Regions from separate parts of the Homo sapiens genome. Here region 2 is linked to region 1. The links come from fine-mapping of genetic effects on gene expression. Tissue or cell type: cerebellum. Region 1 holds a variant in brackets; the other region holds the start of a gene. All regions are shown on one strand. Distances are from middle to middle.

Region 1 (2,682 bases):
CCTCAGAGTTTTCCATTTTGCACCTAAAAATTTTCCTCCAGGTTTAATGGCTGAAAAGCATGCAACTTCCAGCTTATTAAAAATATTAATATTTTGAAAATAAAACATGTGACTCTTGGCTGTGTGTTCAGTGATATGCAGGCATCGTATCACTCTGGCACCCACCATTTAAACATACGTAAATGAGTTCTTTAACCATTCTTTCCATCCACCTCCCTCATAAACTTTTATCCTAATATATGTTATGTGTGAAAGTCATATGGCTTATACCTCTCATACTTCTCAGCAATGAAAATATGTTTATACATTGAAATTGAAGGAAGCGGTACCTTTGTGATCAGGTCTGTAATTATGGAAACGTTACCTTCTGCTTACAGTTATCATCACCATTATGGATATTTGATTAAAACAGAATAAATATGTGACAAACTAATTAACAATTGTTAAACATAAAAAGTACGTTTTTATTGGAAATGCATCTCTCAATGAGGTGAATGAAGTTGTTTTTATTTCCTAGCTTACGTATCTCTGTGCTAGAGTAAGACGCATTATAAACATCGATTCTAGTTCTTCGTTTTCTTTATTATTATAGATGTTGATGGTGAGACTTTTTTTTTCTGAGACAGAGTCTCAAAGAAAAAAAAATCAATGCTTCCTGCACTTTTGCTAATTTCACTCCAGTTTGTCGTCCAGGCTGGAGTGCAGTGGTGCAATCTCAACTCATTGCAGCCTCTTCCTCCTGGGTTCAAGTGATTCTGTGCCTCGGCTTCCCAAGTAGCTGGGATTACAGGTAAGTCTGTCTTCTAGCTAATACAAACTTAAATGACCAGTAATAGGGTACGATTGACTAATCTATGGTTATGTCCACGTGGGGAGATATGAAGTAGCTACTGAAGTTATATTAATGAAGGTATGAAATAACATAAAAGATGCTTAAGGCCGGACACAGTGGCTCATGCCTTGTAATTCCAGCACTTTGGGAGACCAAAGTGGGCGGATCACTTGAGGTCAGGAGTTTGAGACCAGCCTGGCCAACATGGTGAAACCCCGTCTCTACTAAAAATACAAAAAATTAGCTGGGTGTGGTGGCGGG[C/T]GCCTGTAATCCCAGCTACTCGGAGGCTGAGTCAGGAGAATAGCTTGAACCCGGGAGGCGGAGCATGCAGTGAGCCGAGATTTGCCACCGCACTCCAGCCTGGGCAACAGAGTGAGACTCCGTCTCAAAATAAAATAAAATAAAATAAAATAAAATAAAATAAAATAAAATAAAATAAAATAAAATAAAATAAAATAAAATAAAATAAAATAAAATAAAATAAAATAAAATAAAATAAAATAAAATAAAATAAAATAAAATAAAATAAAATAAAATAAAATATGCTTAGGATACATTAATTAAAAAAATAGGTTAAAAATTTGCACACCTGGGATGATGACTGTAAGAAAAGCTCTTATTAGAGAGAAAACTCTGGAAAACTTTAACATGTTATAATGGTTCTATTTTAGGTAAGGAAAATTACTTAAAATATAATTTTCTCATTTTCTTCTCTCATTTTATTTTATTATTTGAAAACAATTTTAATAATGAAAAAGTAAGAAAAATGTATCAAATAGCATTCTCAAGATATTCAGCAAATCTTCTCTTGGGCCAGCCTTGCATCCAGGTGGTATAGGGATCTGCTGGTAATCCAGGCATCGGCCAGTGGAGTGGGGAAGGAAGGAAAGACGCCCCTCTTTCCCAGCTCCCACCAAAGCTCCCTTACAAGCCGTCCTGATGACAGCAATTCTGTCCCTAACACGGACTCCTCTGTACTACTCCTTTGGGGGTACCCCACTAAAAATCGGCTACATGAGGATAAATCACTTAGACGCTGCAGCAGCGTGGTCATTAGTGGCTTCAAGATGAGCGCACGGGTGGGGGTAAGGAGGTCGGATGGGAGGATGGGGGAATGTGCACACAAGAGCGAGGTCATCTGAAGCTCTGTCTAAAGCTTTGTCTGGAGTGGGTCCTTGTTGATGCAGCCTGGTTGCCTACTGAGCGCCCATTCTCTTCTTCCTTGCTCACAGATTACCTTTTTCTTTTTTTTCCTGTAGTGGGTAGGCAATGATTTCCCAAGATCCCTTGCAATTAGGAGTGTCTATGTGGCATTTTTCTAGGCAGTCAGGTGTGAGGGAGTCTAAGGGATGGGGATTCTGGACGAGCTACTACTATTTGCCTGACAAAAATGGGCAGACTTGGTGGGCAAGTGGTTTCCATTCTTTGCCCTCCCCGCTTCCTCTGGTCTGAACCACAAGCACGATGCCTGGATGCGCAGTTGCTATCTGTTGTCCATGGCACAGAAGCATTGAAAGACAAATTTCAGGGAAAAAAGTAAAACCATGACTCTTCTTCAGGTTAAAAATGAACACTGTTAAAGGTTTTATTTAATTCATGTGGAAACTAGGCAGATGATATAACCATTTCAAAAGAGGAGTCAAGGCTGGGCATAGTGGCTCACACCTATAATCCTAGCCCTTTGGGAAGCTGAGATGGGTGGATTGCTTGAGCTCCGGAGTTCAAGACCAGCCTGGGAAATTTGGCGAAACCCTGTCTTGACCAAAAAATACAAAAAAAAAAAAAAAAAAAAAAAAGCCAGGCATGGTGGCCTGCACCTGTGGTCTCAGCTACTCAGAGGCTAAGGCATG
Region 2 (2,682 bases), 110 kb before region 1:
CTACCCCACCTTCTTCAGGGCACCAGAGTCTGTCCTCTGGTGCATCTCTTCAGCCAACCCATATCAGTGCTGGACCCACCCACCCCCAACCCCACAAGAGCATTCCCAGGCACCCAGGTTGTCAATTCACTAAACCGCTAATGGGATTTGGACTGGAGACAGGCATTACCTCTGGGGCCTGCTCTAACAGAGGGGTAAGAGTTTCAAGCAGGTTGGAGACCCAGGGCGGGCAACACATGGCTACCCCCGCCTCCTCCTGGCCTTGGCCCTGCTGAGCAGCAGCTTTGGATCCTCCAGACAAATTGATTGTCAGTGTTCCAAGTCCTGGGAGTAGCTGCTTTTCGTGCATGAATATAGGGCACCTGCAGCCCCAGTGTGTTGGGGAGACGGACACACAGGAAGGATGCTAGGGGCTTGCCCAGAGCCAGGGGAACTGGGACACTGCCACTGTCAGGCCATGTGATGCAGGAACCCCATGGAGCCTTTAGGGGCCTCAAGCTGTTTGTCTATAAGGTGGACAAACCCTAAGCCCCTCAAAGAACTGAGTGCCACTTGTCCAGAAGACCTTCCCCAAGACTCCAGTTCACCCTGATCACTCCTCTTCTCGGTCACCAACACACTTTGTATCATAATGTGTTTGGCACCTGATCACCTTCAGCCTGGCATAGAAAGTGTGGTCCTCTTGTCCTTTAATTATGTCCCACCTAATCACGTTATCTCATCATCGTTCCCGTAAACTTCTGGAGGGTGGCAGGGAGCACGCTTTGTCTCCTATCACCGGTGCCCAAGATCCTGAGAGAGGTGGAGACCTCAAAAACCAGGTCCCGCCACCTCAAGAGGGGCCAGGCCTGCCTGAGCCACTTGCCCCAGTGCCAACACTAACCTCAAGGTCCCCACTTCCAGCCAGTGCCCTTTCAAGGCGCTTTGTGAGGGCATCCCTCACACACATCCTTGCTATGCACTCACCTGCTTCAGCACCTTGTAGATATACATGGAGTAGGACTCCTTGCGCCGACAGCGCTTTTTGGACTTTTTGTTCCCAGAACTGCGACCCCCACGGCCCCCGGGCTGCTGCCGCTGTCCATACTCAGCGCTCATCCTCCTGCTTCTCGAATAGCCCTCACCCACCCCCTTGGAGCTACTTTTTATCAAGTCAGCTGCCCCACCAGGTGTGGCTGGGGACATGCACCTGGGAGGGGGGGGGGGGGCAGGTGGGAGGTAAGGGGCGTGACTCAATCCCAATCCTGAACATGCTCTGGGCTAACCTTGAAAAGAGACTAATTGTTCCTTCCTCTCCCACAAGTAATCCCTCTGAATTAAGAAACCCTTCACCGGGTCCCCTCCCCCACCCAACCATCTCCCAGTGTATTTACGCACTTCTTAAAAGTTCAGGCAACTCCAGCCCACCAGCCTGTAATCACGGAGCACACAGGTGCCAGCACAGCTCAGAGTGCTGCAGACTCCAGAAGGAATGCAAGCTCCCTCCCCCACTGCGCCCCAGTGGAGGTGAAGAGACAAGACTGGTTCACATCAAACCACCAGAGAAGGGTGAAGGGGCTAAAAGTGGTGGTACCCATGGTGAGGAGGGCTCGAGTAGCTAGAGGCCGCTTCTTGGTACAAATGGGTATATGAAGGGTATCCTTCATATACCCATTGTAGGATGTATCCTTGTAGGATGTATCCTTTAATTGGGAAGAATGAGAGAAAGAAACGGTGTGAAAGGTAGAGTGGAATCAGTGTGAGCGGAGTATAATGAGGCTTGGACTGAAGGCAGATGAGCAAAACGCCTGAGCCTGGACTAGATGCAGATAGCAGAAGCTCCCCAGGTGGTGAAGAGGCTGACAGGGAGGAAGACCACTGGAGGAGGTGAGAAGCAGAAAAGCAATAGGTGCTCACCAGAAAAGCAGACGTGGCGGTCTTGGGAGTTAGCAGTAAAGGGAAGAAAAGCCCATTGCAAAATGGAGAAAGTCAATTGTCTCACTTAGCACCTATGGGGGAACAAATACTTCAGGCCCTTGAATGCTGTGATTAAAGAAACCTGGAGCAATATGAAAGGTATAGGGGCTTGGGGGAAAAGAGGATGTTACAAATTGAGAGGTGGGAGAAGGGTTCCAAAGACCAGCATCACCTGCTGGCTGTGTTAAAGCTAGCAACCCCTCAATCAACTTACCTCTCCACCCAGCTCTGAACGGCTGGCCACATCCTACGGGCTAAGGTTTAAGAGAATTAACAGGCCACTTCTCAATCCAAAACAAGGCACTGCTAATTTTAGAAATATGTATTTTGTGGACTTTTAAAGCATTATTTAAATTACCAAGGTTGACATTTTTCTTGACAAATAAGCTGACTAGACTATTTCCATTCCTCCAGGTTCTGAAGATCTCCTGTCCTAGTATGGAGACTCTGGAGATCCCGAGACTACCTGAATTCTTAGCAATATCCAGCACTTCCTTAAGTATCAAGGGCTCTGTCCCTCACTGTCCCCATTATCCCAGCAGCCCACTCTCCAGATGCCATTCTCCCCTGAACCAAGGCTCTGGACTCTCAGGACAGACTAACCTGGGCCATTTTGCTCCAGGCCCCACTTAAGGCATAAAGCAGTCAAGCCAGTACCCTCTGGGGTCAGAGGACTCCCATCTGTCTCAGCTGCAGTGTCTCACGGGAGGCTCCTGTCCCTGTTGC

Alleles and levels. Positions count from the first base shown, and alleles are read on the strand shown. Sizes are in standard deviations (SD) of each study's normalised expression.
In carriers of allele T in region 1, the expression in cerebellum of the gene that starts at base 1,268 in region 2 tends to be higher than with C alone (large effect, 1.1 SD a copy in GTEx).

Evidence for each region. PIP is the estimated chance that this variant, and not a neighbour inherited with it, causes the effect.
Region 2: it holds the start of H2BK1, and the variant in region 1 is fine-mapped to the expression of H2BK1 in cerebellum (GTEx, PIP 0.96).

Annotation. Positions count from the first base shown.
Region 1 is chr7:151,315,309-151,317,990 of GRCh38, forward strand. No RefSeq gene overlaps it. Among named protein-coding and RNA genes, the nearest start is that of NUB1, 25 kb to the right of the region's middle. The variant C/T (reference allele first, on the strand shown) is at 1,094.
Region 2 is chr7:151,209,221-151,211,902 of GRCh38, forward strand. H2BK1 (H2B.K variant histone 1) reads right to left here and starts at 1,268. Exons shown (of 2, transcript NM_001369125.3): 1 at 967-1,268. The coding sequence starts at 1,098. It overlaps ABCF2-H2BK1 (ABCF2-H2BK1 readthrough), which reads right to left. Exons shown (of 17, transcript NR_160983.1): 16 at 1,897-1,988. ABCF2 (ATP binding cassette subfamily F member 2) reads right to left here. Exons shown (of 15, transcript NM_007189.3): 15 at 2,264-2,682.